2 separate regions of the Homo sapiens genome follow, and region 1 is linked to region 2. A link means that fine-mapping ties the variant in region 2 to the expression of a gene that starts in the linked region. Tissue or cell type: whole blood. Region 2 holds a variant in brackets; the other region holds the start of a gene. All regions are shown on one strand. Distances are from middle to middle.

Region 1 (8,000 bases), 28 kb before region 2:
GGTGTGATTGCAGCTCACTGCAGCCTCCACCTCCCAGGCTCAAGTGGTCCTCTCACTTCAGCCTCCCAGGTAAATGGGACCACAGGCATGTTACCATGCCTGGCAAATTTTTAAATTTTTTTTGAAAGACAGGGTCTTGCTATGTTGCCCAGACTGGTCTCAAACTCCTAGGCTCAAGCGACCCTCTCACCTTGGCCTCCCAAAGTGCTGGGATTACAGGCGTGAGTTACTGCACCCAGCCAATAGTTTTTTATTTTTTTTATTTTTTATAGTTGGTTTTGGTTTTTTTTGAGACAGGGTCTCGCTCTGTCACCCAGGCTGGAGTGCAGTGGCACAATCTCGGCTCACCACAGCCTGCGTCTCCCAGGTTCAAGCAATTCTCCTGCCTCAGCCTCCCAAGTAGCTGGGATTATAGGCGCCTGCCACCACACCTGGCTAATTCTTGTATTTTTGGTAGAGATGGGGTTTCGCCATGTTGGCCAGGCTGGTCTCGAACTCCTGATCTCAGGTGATCTGGCCGTCTTGGCCTCCCAAAGTACTGGGATTACAGGCTTGAAACACCGCGCCCGCCAACAGTTTATTTTTAAATGGCTCAATAATATTCCATCATGTATCTATACCACATTTTCTTTACATATCAATCCACTGGTGGACACTTAGATTGCTTCCATATCTTAGCTATTATAAGTAGTACAAAGGCACGAAGAACCTACATTGGGGAAAGGATGGTCTCTTCAATAAATGGCACTGGGAAAATTGGATAAGTATGTGAAGAAGAATGAAAACTAGGCCCCTATCTCTCACCACACACAGTAATCAACTCAACATGGATTAAAGACTTAAAAGTAAGACCTGAAACTATAAAGCTACTAGAAGAGGCCAGCGCGGTGGCTCACACCTGTAATCCCAGCACACTGGGAGGTTGAGGCGGGCAGATCACTTAAGGTCAGGAGTTCTAGACCAGCCTGGCCAACACAGTGCAACCCCGTCTCTACTAAAAATACAAAAAGTAGCCGGGCGTGGTGGCGCACATCTGTAATCCCAGTTACTCAGGGGGCTGGGGCAGGAGAAATGCTTGAACCCAAGAGGAGGAGGTTGCAGTGAGCCAAGATCACACCACTGCACTCCAGCCTGGGGCGACAGAGCAAGACTCTGTCTTTAAAAAAAAAAAAAAAAAAAAAAAAAAAAAAAGGCTGGGTGTGGTGGCTCACACCTGTAATCCCAGCACACTGGGAGGCTGAGGCGGGCAGATCACCTGAGGTCAGGAGTTCCAGCCCAGCCTGTCCAACATGGTGAAACCCCATCTCTACTAAAAGTATAAAAATTAGCCAGGGTGGTGGCATGCGCCTGTAATCCCAGCTACTTGTGAGGGTGTGGCAGGAGAATCGCTTGATCCCAGGAGGCTAAGGTTGCAGTGAGCCAAGATTGTGCCACTGCACTCCAGCCTGGGTTTCAGAGTGAGACTGTGTCTCAAAAAATAAATAAATAAATAAATACAAATAATAAAATAAATAAAATAAAACTACTAGAAGAAAATGGGGAAATGCTCCAGGAAAGATTTTATGGCTAAGACCCCAAAATCACAGGCAACAAAAACAAAAACAGACAAATGGGAGTATATTAAAGTAAAAAGCTTTTGCACAGCACAGAAGCAATCAACAATGAAGAGACAATATAGGAGAAAATATTTGCAAATGATTCATGTGACAAGCACTGTTTATTTTTGAGGTGCAATGTCCATCTGCCCTACTGCAATTTAGGCCCCAAATGGGTGGGACAGGGTCTGATTCCTTGCTCTTCCTCAGATGCCCAGTGAAGCCCTGCTCAATTTCAATTCAATTATATTAAAGAACAAAGCCAGCACCTCTGCTCCCTTTTACCAGTCCTGTTTGCTATTTCACTTCTCAAGCAGGTCCTGGGGCCCACCGCATCCTCCTGGGCCTCATTCTCAGCCTTCTTGCCTTGGAGTTCCGTTGCTGAGGAGGGCCACCAGGCTTGGCATGTGGGTGCCCCATTGCCCTCTGAAGCATGGTGTTGCCACACAGGAACCACAGTCCTCACTATCACTCCATACGTCCTTGCTTCACACAAGCCTGCCATCTCAGCATGGGGCACCCGAACTCCTCCTGCCCCGTCCTCCCAGTCAAAAAAGCCTCTGGGTCCAGGGGTGTGCACACCGCAGCCCCAGCATCTTTGAGCAGCCCTGGATGGGATCATGTCTGCCCTGGCTTTCCACCCTTCCATGACCAGCTTCCCATTCCATGTCCTGGATCATGTCCCAAAGTCTTGGCCAGACTTAAAGTGCCATCCCCATCCAGCCCTGTGAGCTCCTCAGGCCCAGCTCTGTCCTGGAAGCCCTTTGCCCACTTCGCCTGGCCATTGCCCTTGACTCAGCTGTCATTTCCTCTCAGGCACTTCCCCGTTCAGCTCCTGACTCCAGCTGAGACACCAGCTGAGGCCCCGCATGGCGTCTACAGGTCCTTCCCTGCACCCACCTAGGGCCCCATGGCACCCATGCTAGTCTGACCCTCCTGCCTGCCAGCAAGCAGGGCGGAGAGCTGGAACAAGAGTCAAACACTGTCAACTTGATCGAGGAAGAACTCCAGGAAGGGCATGGAAAGCAACTCCTCTTTCCGGCTGCAGGGGTTCAGTCTATCTGACCGGGGGTACGGGCTGACAGTGACCATGTAATCAAAGCACCTGTCCAAGACCCCCAGGAAAACCGAGCTGGTTACCTTATAGCCTAGCTTCCCTGTACCTTTGAATTGCCATGATCCTTATTATGTGACACTCAAATCTCGTCACAGCTTCCCCCAGCGCCTGGCATGGGAAAGCCAACACCTCAACAGCACTGGCCCCTGGGTCTGGGGTCTTTCAGGGAAGCCCTGGGAAGCCTGACAATCTCCTGGCTAAAGGCCCCAGACTCTCCCGCACGCGTTTAAACAGCAGGCACTGTCACCTCCAGGCCTTTAGCATTTATGGTTAGTTATGTCCCCCGCTCCGCATGACCTTTCTTGCTGTCTTTCTGTGGATAAAGGAATATCAATTAACATTAATTTAGCTTCTGGACTGATTCCAGGCAAGGCCCTTGGAAACCAGCAGCTGCTTTTGTGTGTGTGTGTGTGTGTGTGTGTGTTTTTGAGACAGGGTCTTGCTCTGTCGCCCAGGCTGGAGCAGTGGCGCGATCTCAGCTCACTGCAGCCCTGAACTCCCTGGCTCAAGCCATCCTCCCACCTCAGCGTTCCAAGTACCTGGGACCACAGGCGTGTGCCACCATGCCTCCGGGTCTCGCTATGTTGCCCCGGCTAGGCTCAAGCAATCCTCCCACCTCAGCCTTCCAAAGTGTTGGGATTACAGGCATGAGCCAACGCATCAGGCCTTAGTTTTCTTATTTACCATGGGTGGGGGACTTGGGGACATATGTGAGGTAACTAGCCAAGGTCACAAAGAGCAGGTGGTGGCACAGACAGGCAAGAATTCTTCTCTTTGTCCCTTCTCAAATGGATACTTCCAACTGCATGAACTAAAACACAGACGATTACAAAATACATGTAATATGTTGAGAGGCGACTTTAAAAATATTGTTGAAAATGTGTGAGAGGGTGACGTGTGCTTCTTTACTAACGCATTAAATTACAAGGTCTTCCAGCAGGACGCATAACTTCAGTAACTTCAAAGTAATAATTCTGCCCGCCGGTAGATCTGGTAGATCTTGTAATTTAACTGAACTTCTAGACGTTTACAACAAAAGCCACAGGCTCTGACAGGACCGGTCTGTCCATTTCTACTGGCGACTGCCGCTCCCGGGCAGCAGCTTGGGTCCCCGCGCTGCGGCCTGCGCGTGGCAGGGCGGATGCCGCCGCCGCCGCCGCCGCCGCCGCGCCCGGGCGGCCTCCTAGAGGAGGCGAAACGTGGGGGCGAGGCCGGGACCCACCTCCCAGGGCTGCGGTGAGCACTTACAGTATTGGCGCGAAAAGGCCAGCTATCACCATACGGGTATTTCGCCTCACTCGCCTCGCTGGGGGAAATTCAAATCTCCGAAAAGGGAGGATCCGAGCAGCGCCGGTGCGCCTGCGCGCAGGGCGGGACTCGAAGCCTGGGAAGCGGGCGGGGCGAGGTGACGCGAGATGACGCGGACGCCTCCCGCGGTCGCCCGCCCGGCTCGTGCGCCACCGGCCCGACTGCGGGCCTCTCGGCAGTGGGGGCGGCCGAGCGCGCGGCGGTCTGGGGCGCGCGGCCCGGCTCATTTTGCTGCGGCGCGGGCGGAGGCGGTGGCGCCCGAGGGCGGGCCCCGCAGCCTGGGAGCCTGGGAGCGGGCGGAGGCTCCACCCCCGGGCGCCGGCGCTCGGCTGCGTCGCCTCCCACTGTCGCCCCGCCCCCGGCTCCCCCGCGGCGCGCCTCGGGCCGCCTCCTGCGGCTGCTGGGTGTGCAGGGCGCGAAAATGCTCGCTTCCCGGCCGCAGGCGCGGCTGCAGTGGCTGTTCGCCAACCCCGGCCACCTGCGTGCCGCTGTCCCCAGTGCTGGTTAAAGGCAGTTCTTCGGGCGTGCGTCCCTTATCAACCCGAGAGACCGTTCCCAAGGGGGCGGGGCCGAGCGCGTCGGAGGGGTTAGCAGTCTCATCCGGGCATTTCCGAGATGCCGCCGCCGCCATCTTTGTTTTGTGCTGAAAGTCGCTATTGACGCCCGCGGACGGCCGGGCGAGGGGAAGTGGCAAGATGGCGGCTCCCAGGGCGGAGGCGTGGAGGCTCGCCCGGTGGGGGGGCCGTGGGGCGGGGCGCGCCTGCGCCTGCACCTGATCTGAGCGCGACTCGAGCTTTAGCCCAGCGCGCGGCAGCGCCGACCCCCACCCCCGCCGCGAGGCAGCGCAGGGGTCCTTTAAGAGGCTTGGGCCCAGGGGCGAAGCGGTGCGAGGGCGAGTGGGGGGAAGCGGTGACGTCACCCGGCTCCGCCTCCTCGCCCGACCGCCGGCGCCGCTGCCGCCATGTTTAGTTGTTACTTCTTCACACAAGATGGCGGCTCCCAGGGAGGAGGCATGAGCGCCCTGCCGTTACCGCTTCTTCTGCCGTACAGTTGCCGCTTCGGGGCCTAACTCTAGCTCTTTGAAGCGGCTCCTGTGGGAAGGAGTCATAAGGCGGGAAGTGAGGATCGGACACCGCCTTGAGTTTGGTGTGCAGTGGAAGAACTGACCTAGGAGGAAGAGAATAGGGGGGAACGGGGAGCTAGTCTCAAGATGGCGGCTCCCACGGCGGCAGGCGCAGCCTGAGCAGCAGAGGCGGACTAAGGGGAGAGGCGCGAGACTTCACAAGCCGTACGGCGCGAGCCCCCAAACGGCCCTCGAGAGCTCGAGCTGGTTCCACCGGCCTCCGGCCCGCCTCCATTCGTTAGGTGTGTCGAGGCTGTTTCGGGAGCGGCGGCTGCACTAAGGCGCTGGGCGGGGAAGCGGGACGGTCTCAAGATGGCGGCTCCCACAATTGTGGTCTGAGCGCCGGCGGGGCTGCGACGACCGCGGCGCTTGTGGCTCCTTTCCACCCGCCCCGGAAGCCGGCCAGTGCTGGGGACTTGGGGGTGTGGGAACCGGGCCGGGGCTCCGCCATTTCCGGCGGGGGAGGGCTACGACTGAGGAAGGGAGGAGAGAGAGGCGGCTCAAGATGGCGGCTCCCAGGGCCTCCCGCCCGAGCTTGTAAGCGGGAGCGCCCGGACAAGTAGTCGGGGCGACGGGACTCAGCGGCCTCCAGCTTCTTGAGCCTAGGCGCTCGACAGTTTCGGGCGGCTCTTGCGGAGACGGGGTGAGCGAGAAGAAAGGGAAGAGCCAAAGGGAAGGAGGGCAGTTAAGATGGCGGCCTCCATGGAGTCGTCTACCGCTGTGTGAGAAACCGCTTCTCCGTGAGAGCTGCCTTAGACGAAAGGGGGTGTGTGAAAGGAATTGAGGGGCTCCCTTCCCGCTTGTTGACTTCTCCCCACCGCACCCTTTCCCGGAACTATGGCTTCGGCCGTGTCGCCCGCCAACTTGCCAGCGGTGCTTCTGCAGCCCCGCTGGAAGCGAGTGGTGGGCTGGTCGGGTCCGGTGCCACGGCCCCGCCACGGCCACCGCGCCGTGGCCATCAAGGAGCTCATCGTGGTGTTTGGCGGCGGCAACGAGGGAATAGTGGACGAACTGCACGTGTACAACACGGGTGAGTGCAAAGCCCGCTGGGTCTTCGGCTCTTTCCCTCCCTCCATCTCCTCCCTCTCCCTCCTCTTTCCTCCCTCCCTCCATCTGCTCCCTCCCTCTCCTCCCTCCCTCCATCTCCTCCCTCACCCTCTACCCTTCCCTCTCTCTCTCCCCTCCTCCCTTACCCGTCCTTCTCCCCTCTCCCCGTCCCCCTCCCCCTTCTCCCCTCCTCCCCCTCCCTCCCCACTGATCGGCTTGCCCCTCCCCTTTGCTGTGCCGGGCTTCAGTGCTTTTCTCTGATCTTCTCCCCGTTCCCTTGTCTCTCCCGTGTTTGAGGATTGGTTTTCGTTAGTTAAAAGAAAGCCCCTAGTCCGACTGGTGAGGGAGAGGGGCTGTCGCCAGCGGTGGTGACTTCAGACCCACACCGTTACCCAGCGGGCTGGGGCTGGGGCTGGGGCGGGCGGATGTGTCCCCTTGGCGCAGGCAGAGCTCCCCTCCCTCCCTCCCTCCCTTCTCCTGCGCCTGCTCAGCTCTCCCTCATCTCGAGTGCCCATTCTGGAGAAATGACCATTTCTAGATTACAGATTCGTTCTCTGTCTCTCGAAAAAGGGAGGGAAGGGAAGCGCTCTTAGGACGCAGAGTTTAACATCCGCCGACCCGGGTAATGCCGGAGCCTTGGGGACCCCTAGGACGGGCCGGCGGCAGGGCCGCCTCTCCCTTTCCACGTTTACTTCTGCAGCATTTCTTTCCAAGTCGCCCCTTCTCCTAATCTGGTGCCTTCTGGTTTACAAGCTGAATTCCAGTTACCCCTCAGCGGCCTGCGTAGTCGTGTGTCTCCCCGCTTCTGCGGATCCAGGGGGTTACCCCACCCGCTCTTCTGCCTCCCTGCAAAACCCAAAGCCCGTTAGTTGGGAAGGGGAGGAACCTCTCTCTTCAGGTATGGCTGATGCACCACGGCCTTCGTGGGGGCCGTTTGTTGTTGCCTCTGCCTAGTAGCCTTGCTTAGTCTCTAGGGCAGAAAGCCTGCTGCTGTCCACGACAGCTTTGTGGCATCCTTTTTCTTGGTGGCTACTTGGCCCGTTTTGTGCCCCTAGCACAAGGGTCAGTTCCCAAGTTGCCTACTGACTGCCCGTTGGCCCACAGGACCCTGGCCTTGCCCAGAAGGCAGGGTCAGGGTGAGTTCGGTCCCAGGCAAGAGCTGGAAGAGTCTGGGTGAGGGAAAAGCCCCCTGCAGGCGGCTGGGGGAGGGCCTTGGGATGCCCTAGTCCTGAGTGGCAGGCACGGCTCCCAGCACTAACCCCTTGCTCCGCGGCCGTTCTCTCCTGGGGGCTCTAGCGATCCCCTGGCCTCGGTGGTGGCCCTGCAGACAAACCCTCGCTGAGTGGGCTTTGTGTCCTGAGCGGTGAGAGGCTGCTGTTCTTTGGCTGAGCTCCAGTGCCTCGATGCTCTGGGGGTGGGAAGCTGGAGCTGCCTGGAGGGAGAAAGTTGGTTTAGGGAGTTGGGAAGGCTGGAGCTGGGCTCTTGGGTGCCGCTTCCTTCCCCACCCCCCAAGGCAGAAAGTGCTGGTTTCTCCACATCTCGGAGATTATCGCCACCTACCACGTTGACTTTGAAAGGCTGGTGGGTTGTCTGTGACCGTTTTTCGTTCCAGGTCTCTCAGCACCTGTTGCCTCCAGGGAGCAGGGCCTTTCTCAGCAGCCCCCGGGCGGGGGCGCTTGGTGGTTGGTGGTGCCCCGCGCCAGCCCAGGCAGCTGCAGTAGCAGGAATTAGCTCAGTAAGCTAAGGCTTCTCCAGTGGTGGGGCTGTTTATAGAGGCACCGTCACCATGAGCAGCACCTTCTCCACTCTG
Region 2 (8,000 bases):
CTTCTTTCCCATTTTAAAAAAGAAAAGAAGGAAAAAGAAAAAAGGGGCAAGGAGCCCCGCGGCGGCCTGGGCAGCGCCTGTGCAGACCTCCCTGCAGGCCGCACTGCCAACTGCTGCATTTGTTGTGTTTTTTAGGTTGCAATTGGTGAAGTTCACACTTTCATTGTAATTTTAGCGTGTGGGGTTTTGTCCCTTTTTTGTTGTTGTTAGCTGTGTACAGAATGTGTAATCTTTTTTCTTTTCTCTTTTTTTTGTTTTGTTTTGTTTTGTTTTTGTTTTTTTACTTTTTTCTTCTTGGCTAATTCTTGGCAGGGATCTTTCTGGAGGAAAAGCTGGGGCCAGCCAGGGCAGGAGAGGTGTGAAATCTGCCACGAGGGGCCTGCTGTTTGCCACCCAGCCCAACTTCCTGTTGCTGGCCCCTGCCCTCTGCCCTTTTGCCTGTCCTCAGGCCGCTGGAACAAAGGAAGGACAGCTCATTCCTCATGGGCGATCACTCCGCATCTATAGGGTCGAGCCTAGGGGAGCTTGAGGGAGGGCTGGGGCCTCCTTGTCCTGGATTTCCAGCTCTCCCCATGCCCCCTCCCTGAGCACCACCGGCACCGCCTCCCAAACAGGGCTGCTGGTTTCCGCAGCCACTGCTCCACCTCCCCCAAATCGTCATGGAAAGGGTGGAGAATGGAGGGGAACCAGGCGTCCTTGGAGGCAGCTTGGGAGGGTGACTGTGTAGTGTCACCCACAAGGGAGGCTAGGGCAATGGAGCAGGCCACCAGCAGCAGCTGTGCAGCATGGAACTCAGGCCAGGCTCCGAGGCTGGGGGATCTGCTTGGAGTTTTCTGCCCCCCACCCCAAACTTCTGTCGAGGAGCAAGGCTTGCCAGCAAGTCAGAAGGATTTGAACCGAGCAGCCAATCTTTCCAGCCCTCCCCTACCGACCTCTGCCTGGAGACGCAGCAGCCTGTGTCCTCCAGGGCCTCTGGTTTGTTGTATTATAGTATATTTCGCTGTGGAAAATGTCACGTTTAGTCACCTTGGAGCCCACTCACCTGGTCCTGTTGTTTTACCCCATCCCTTCTCTCGCGCGCCTATTGATTTGTTTCTGAGGAGAGTACACCGTTCACTATTGTAGAGTAACCCCTGTGACTCAATATTACCATAGTGCGATGTCGTTTTGTGCTATTTTGAACAATTAAAAGACTTTTTTTGAAATAACCACTAGGTGTCTCACTGTGTCCCGGCATCCTCTCAGGAAGCCTGAGCGGGAAGGCTGAGACCTGCCCGAGGCTCACGGGAGCCCCCTGGAGGGAGACCTGAGCTCTGGTGAAAGCGTAGAAGGCCCCAGAGTGAGGCCTCTGCTGTGGCCTCCGGTCTTTGGACCAAGTCGGACCAGGGTCCAGCAGGTTGCTTGGTAGCTGCCTTGCAGGGCAAGGGCCAAAGAGCCCCTTGGGCAGCTGCTGCTGACTTCCTGTGTCTGGGGCCCAGATCTCCCTCCCTCCCCTCCTGCACTAGAGGATAGGATGGGGCAAGGGCCTGGCAGGTCACCAGCGGCAGCCTCCTTGGGTGGGTTGGGGGGAGGTGGGCTGAGTCAAGTACACCACGGGTACTGCAGAGGTGGATCCCTTCCTCTGGCTTCCTCTTAAATGTGAGCCATGCCCCCAAGGGGAAGAAGCAAGAGCTTGTGATCCAGACTGACCACCTAGCAGCTGGGTCGGTAGGACAGCTGGGATCCCGTGGGCTGAATTTGTACCAGGAGGCCCAGAAAGCTCCGGGGCAAGGTGGCCGGAGCAGCACAGGCCTAGGCGGGTCTGAGGGGAGTGACACCCTGCTTCTGGGGCCTGGTGCTCCTGGCGCACCTGCATTCCCCGCCCCCTCCAAGCCCCTGCCGCCTGCCTTTGTTTCCCCTACACACCTCTACTGCCCAGCCTTCCTCTCAGAGCACCCAGGCACTCCGCTACCAGAAGCTCCTGGAGTAACCAAAGCCTCCGTGTCTCCACCTGTGGCATGGGTGTGTGTGCAAGGCCCTGTCGAATGCGACCTCTTCTGGGAAGCCTCTGTCCTGTGGGGTCTGCTGTGTCATGTGGGGGTGGGGGGAAGCAGACTGGCCAGGGCTTGACACCAGGAGCCATGGCTCTGTCTTACCCACCGCACCAACTGTGACCTGCCTTGGAGCCTAGCCTCGCAGAGGCCCAAGGAGAGGGGTGGGAAAGTGTCCTTCAGAGCAGAGCGGTAGGAGTCATGGCTGGGGCTGGTGGAGGCCAGGGGCCACATGGGGCTGGCCCCAGAACCGAGGGGCCTTGCGGATTTGCCATACCTTTGGCAAATGGCGTTGTGGGCGCTTCGCCTGGTGGGGGTGGTACAAGGCTTCTTCCTACCCCACTTCTGTAGCTGGCACCTGTGGGGCTACCCACCCTCCGCATTCCTTCAGCTCACTTGTCTCACCGCGGCTGCATCACACTCCACAAGGCAAGGGCCACATCAGTCATGCCTCTGGTGTTTATCTGAAAATACCGCGTTTCCGTCTGAGGGCACCACTCAGTCTGGGGAGGCAGGAGGGAGGCTGGACATGAATGTGAACATGACAGGCCTGTGAGCAGGGCAGGTAGATACAGCCCGGCTGGGCACAAAGCTCATCCCCTGAGCATGAGCCGAGGCCGAGGGTGGGTGGGAGCACACAGAGGATGCCTCCCCAGCTGCCAGGGCATCAGCCTCATTACCAAGCACCCCAAAGGGGAACTGTTTGGGGTTGGGTGGGTCAGCCTGCAGCAGGGACTGAGACAGCCACTGTGGCATCAAAGACCAGCAGTGCAGTACCCACGCCCAGAGGCTGGAACCCATTTTGTGCACTGTTGGCCTGGAAGGTAGGAACCACCTCAGCCCAGCTGCCTTGTAGCATCATCGGGTCAGTCATAGAGCTACAGACAGATCTGGGCAGCTGGAAAACAGGCCCAGAGAAGGGGGGTGTGGGCTGTTACCTGCAGTTACTGTCTGGCCTTAGAGCTGTGTCACTTGTGTAAAGAAGTCAGTGCCAAGGCCGAGCGCGGTGGCTCACACCTGTAATACCAACACTTTGGGAGGCCGAGGCAGGTGGATCACGAGGTCAAGAATTTGAGACCAGCCTGGCCAACATGGTGAAAAACCGTCTACTAAAAAAAAAAAAAAAAAAAAAAAAAAAATTAGCTAGGCATGGTGGCAGGCACCTGTAATCCCAGCTACTCCAGAGGCCGAGGCAGGAGAATTGCTTAAACCCGGGAAGCGGAGGTTATAGTGAGCCAAGATCATGCCACTGCACTCCAGCCTGGGCGACAGAGCAAGACCCCATCTTGGGAAAAAAAAAAAAAAAATTAGCGCCAATGGCTGCCCATTACTGACTGTTGAGGTAGTTGGTGACAAACTGATTCAAAAGAGAGGACTTGCTAGGCTGGGTGCGGTGGCTCACGCCTGTAATCCCAGCACTTTGGGAGGCTGACGCAGGAGGATCGCTTGAGCTTAGGAGTTCGAGACCAGCCTGGGCAACATTGCAAAACCCTGTCTCCACTAAA[A/T]ATACAAAAATTAGCCAGGCATGGTGGCCCACACCTGTGGTCCCACCTACTCAGGAGGCTGAGGTGGGAGGATCGCTTGAGCCTGGCAGGTCAAGGCTGCAGTGAGCTGCCTGGGCGACAGGACACTGTCTCAAAAAACAAAGAAACAAACAACAACAACAACAACAAAAACAGAACTTGCCTCCTGTCTACCCTGTGTGGTGACAGGTCAGAGGGACCTCTGCATTCAGGCCCACTAGCTGTTCCCTGTCCTGCTGCACCCCTGCCCCACAGGCTTGGTAGGGCCAAGGCCCTCAGCCGCCCTGCCGGGGCCCCTGGTGTAGGGCGGGGTGGGTGGCAGCCCCGTTCCCCCTCATCCCAGACCCTCCGGCCATCCCAGCTTTTCCCACCAAGCAGGATCTTGAGACCAGAGCTCCCAGCAGGGGCCCTGGAGGGACTGGCCCATTCGAGTGGAGGGTCGCGGCAGGAACAAGTGCGGGGGTCGGGCTCAAAGCCCCGCCCCAGGCCCAGCGGAACCCTGAAGAGGAGGGGGAGGGTGAGCCGGGCGCGGCTGTGTCAGCTGAGTGACAGTCACGGGACCGCGACCAACTCTGTCTGGCTTCCTAGAGGAGCAGGAGGGATGAGCAAGGGTCTCCCAGCGCGACAGGCCAGTGGTGGGGTGCTTGGGGGGAGTGCTGTCTTGGAGGGTCCCGGGGATGGTGACGTCTGAAGCCCCGTGCAGAGGTGGGGAGATCCCTGAGGGCTGGTTCCCGAGGCTGGGGGGGCCTAGGTCCCATGTGGGGGCTGCGCCTTCAAGCCCCATTTCCCCTAGGACATGGAGAAAGAGCGAGAGACTCTGCAGGCCTGGAAGGAGCGCGTGGGGCAGGAGCTGGACCGCGTGGTGGCTTTCTGGATGGAGCACTCCCACGACCAGGAGCACGGGTACTCGGCGTGCTTCTGGAGTCCTCAGCAGGGTTTTTGCCCTTCCTGAGGCCCCTTCTCACTCTCAGGCACCTCACAGATTTGCTGGCCCCAGAGGGGCAGGAGGGGCTGGCAAGGCCCGTTCCAGACTTTGCTAACCCTGCCTTCCCACAGGGGCTTCTTCACGTGCCTTGGCCGCGAGGGGCGGGTGTATGATGACCTCAAGTATGTGTGGCTGCAGGGGAGGCAGGTATGGTGTTCCCAGCCTGGAAGCTCAGGCACACGGCCCATCGCCTCAAAGGTCTCCCCACCTCACCCCAGCCGGCCACTTAAGCCACTTTCCCTCCCGTACCCCGCAGGTATGGATGTATTGTCGCCTGTACCGCACTTTCGAGCGCTTCCGCCATGCTCAGCTTCTGGACGCAGCAAAAGCAGGTAGGTGCCCCCTTCCTGCCCATCTCCCAGTGACTCCGTCCATGTTTACTCAACAGGGCACATGTGCGGAGTTCCTAGAGGGATCTAGAAGCAGCGAAGGACTTGGGGAGGCTCAAGGGTGGTGTGTGCGGGGCGTCCTGGCCTTACCCCTGGCATGCCAACCCCCCAACCTCCAGGTGGTGAGTTCTTGCTGCGGTATGCCCGGGTGGCACCTCCTGGCAAGAAGTGTGCCTTTGTGCTGACTCGGGACGGCCGCCCGGTCAAGGTGCAGCGAACCATCTTCAGTGAGTGTTTCTACACCATGGCCATGAACGAGCTGTGGAGAGCCACAGGGGAAGTGCGGTACCAGGTGTGTGAGAGGAGGGTGCCCCTGAAGACCCCACCCTGCGACCCTGCCATGGCCACCTGATGCATTCCCACTCACTACGCAAGTCCCCTCCCATGGACCCATCTGTGGGCCAAGTCCCCTTCACCTCTGAACGCTCCCCTACCCCCACAGGGGCGCAGACGGAGAGGGCCCTATCCACGCCCTGCCCCCAACTGGGAAAAGGCCCTTCCCTCCTCCCTGGGCTCCCTGTGCTGCCAGACCCTGACCCCACAGCCTGGAAGGGGCTGCACCCCCAGACTGGGAGCAGAGTGGGGCGGATCTGACTGGCCCCTACTGGACGCTGGGTGCCAGGCCCCAAGTAGGCCCTGGATGAAGGTGTCTCTGGGTTCAGGAGAGGAATTGGCTCTCCCACCCCAGGGCCGTGTCCAGGGGGATGGCACAGGATGTAGCCTCAGCCTGGGCCTCCCCTTGCCTCCTGCACCCCCAGACGGAAGCGGTGGAGATGATGGATCAGATCGTCCACTGGGTGCAGGAGGACGCGTCGGGACTGGGCCGGCCCCAGCTCCAGGGGGCCCCGGCTGCGGAGCCCATGGCGGTGCCCATGATGCTACTGAACCTGGTGGAGCAGCTCGGGGAGGCAGATGAGGAGCTGGCGGGCAAATACGCAGAGCTGGGGGACTGGTGCGCCCGGAGGATTCTGCAGCACGTGCAGGTGGGGGATGCCTGGGGAGCTGGGGTGGTGGGAGGCCTTCCACTCCCCCACTCCCCTGGGCACCCTGGGGCTCGACACACCTGGAGAGACAGAGATTCGGGGATGTCCCCACCTGGGGAAGGTGGAGGGCCTGAGGGCTGGAGGGAGGATGCGGAGCCCCAGGCAAGCCCTGACAGAAGGAGACCCCTCCTGCCCCACCCAAGTCCCTTCCAGGCCTCTGGGCCGTGAAACCCGCCCTGTCTGTCCCCATTCAATGTTTCACCCTCCCCTGCTGGAGAGGATCAGGCCAGAAGTGAGGATTACATCTTCCTAGGCCCGGGCTGGACGCGGTGGCTCGTGCCTGTAATCCCAGCAGTTTGGGAGGCTGAGGCGGGCGGATCACCTGAGGTCAGGAGTTGGAGACCAGCCTGGCCAATATAGTGAAACCCCGTCTCTACTAAAAATACAAAAATTAGCTGGGCATGGTGGTGCATGCCTGTAATCCCAGCCTCTAGGGAGGCTGAGGCAGGAGAATCGCATGAACCCAGGAGGTGGAGATTGTAGTGAGTCGAGATTGCGGCCACTGCACTTTAGCCTGGGTGACAGAGCAAGACTCTGTCTAAAAAAAAAAAAAAAAAAAAAAAACAACAACTTGCTAGGCCCAAGGGAGTGAATCAGCCCCTCCTTAAATGCCCCTCTGAGCCTGGCCCACCCAAGCCAGCAGGTCCAGGGGCTTGGGTAAGAGGGAGGGAGGAAGGGCTTTCCGGAGCTGGGTCTTTCTAGTTGGGTGGCTGGGTGGGTGAAAGGGCTGGAGGCAACATTCCCTTCTGCTCCTTCCCGGTAGAGGGATGGACAAGCTGTGCTGGAGAATGTGTCAGAGGGTGGCAAGGAACTTCCTGGCTGCCTGGGGAGACAGCAGAACCCAGGTGAGGGGCGGGGTGGGCTGGGGGCCACCCAGGAGGAGGGGAGCGCTGAGCCTTGTGTTCTGGGCTTCAGATATGGGAGTGCCTGGCGGGGGCGCCTTGAGGAGGCAGAGGAGCGAGGATGGGCTTCCCAAGGCTGGGGGTTTCTGCAGAGGAGCAGGCTTCCAGGGCCAGGGAGCTCAGAGCCTCGCTCATTGTTAGGGAGGGAGCAGAGAGGTGCCAGGGGCTTTTGCTCCCTCTGTTCCCTCCCTCAACCCCACCCCCCGCCCCCCGCCCTTCCGTACTCCACCCCTCACCAGGCCACACGCTGGAAGCCGGCTGGTTTCTGCTCCGTCATTGCATTCGGAAAGGCGACCCCGAACTTCGAGCCCACGTGATTGACAAGTTCCTATTGTTGCCCTTCCACTCCGGATGGGACCCTGACCACGGAGGCCTCTTTTACTTCCAGGATGCTGATAACTTCTGCCCCACCCAGGTGGGAGAGCGCCCAGGGCCATGTGTGACCCACGCTGTTCTAAGGCTTTCTGCCCAGGGAGGTGGTTGCTTCTCTAGAGGGTAACCTGGGGCTGGATTGGAACCTAGAGGCCTGCTCTCAGCTTCTGTGCCAGTGTTACAGGAAAGGGGTCGTGATCCAGACCCCAGAAGAGGGAGGGTTCTTGGATCTTGCCCAAGAAAGAATTCAGGGCGAGTCCGCAATGCAAAGTGAAAGCAAGTTTATTAAGAAAGTAAAGGAATAAAAGAATGGTTACTCCATAGGCAGAGCAGCCCTGAGGGCTGCTGGTTGCCTTTTTTTTTTTTTTTTTTTTTTTTTTTGAGGTGGAGTTTTGCTCTTGCTGCCCAGGCTGGAGTGCAATGGCGCCATCTCGGCTCACCACAACCTCTGCTTCCCGGGTTCAAGCGATTCTCCTGCCCTAGCCTCCCGAGTAGCTAGGATTACAGGCATGGGCCACCATGCCTGGCTAATTTTGTATTTTTAGTAGAGACGGGGTTTCTCCATGTTGGTCAGGCTGGTCTCGAACTCCCGACCTCAGGTGATCCGCCCGCCTCAGCCTCCCAAAGTGCTGGGATTATAGGCGTGAGCCACCGCACCCGGCTGGTTGCCCATTTTTATGCTTATTTCTTGATGATATGCTAAACAAGGGGTGGATTATTCATGCCTCCCCTTTTTAGACCATATAGGGTAACTTC

Evidence for each region. PIP is the estimated chance that this variant, and not a neighbour inherited with it, causes the effect.
Region 1: it holds the start of TMEM187, and the variant in region 2 is fine-mapped to the expression of TMEM187 in whole blood (TOPMed, PIP above 0.99). The same link has a PIP of 0.9 or more in blood mononuclear cells.

The regions. Positions count from the first base shown.
Region 1 is chrX:153,968,821-153,976,820 of GRCh38, reverse strand. TMEM187 (transmembrane protein 187) reads right to left here and starts at 4,067. Exons shown (of 2, transcript NM_003492.3): 1 at 3,961-4,067. It overlaps HCFC1 (host cell factor C1), which reads left to right and starts at 5,003. Exons shown (of 26, transcript NM_005334.3): 1 at 5,003-6,173. The coding sequence starts at 5,981. HCFC1-AS1 (HCFC1 antisense RNA 1) reads right to left here. Exons shown (of 3, transcript NR_046608.3): 1 at 7,751-8,000; 2 at 7,450-7,622; 3 at 6,730-7,036. RefSeq lists silencers at 3,783-3,892, 4,003-4,452, 4,683-4,922, 7,419-7,597 and enhancers at 5,153-5,912, 5,554-6,403, 6,393-6,632.
Region 2 is chrX:153,940,765-153,948,764 of GRCh38, reverse strand. RENBP (renin binding protein) reads left to right here and starts at 4,122. Exons shown (of 11, transcript NM_002910.6): 1 at 4,122-4,181; 2 at 4,347-4,456; 3 at 4,610-4,685; 4 at 4,795-4,870; 5 at 5,047-5,219; 6 at 5,686-5,910; 7 at 6,734-6,815; 8 at 7,112-7,287. The coding sequence starts at 4,155. HCFC1 (host cell factor C1) reads left to right here. Exons shown (of 26, transcript NM_005334.3): 26 at 1-1,208. RefSeq lists enhancers at 501-1,040, 3,207-3,970, 4,150-4,279 and a silencer at 3,880-3,939. The variant A/T (reference allele first, on the strand shown) is at 3,536.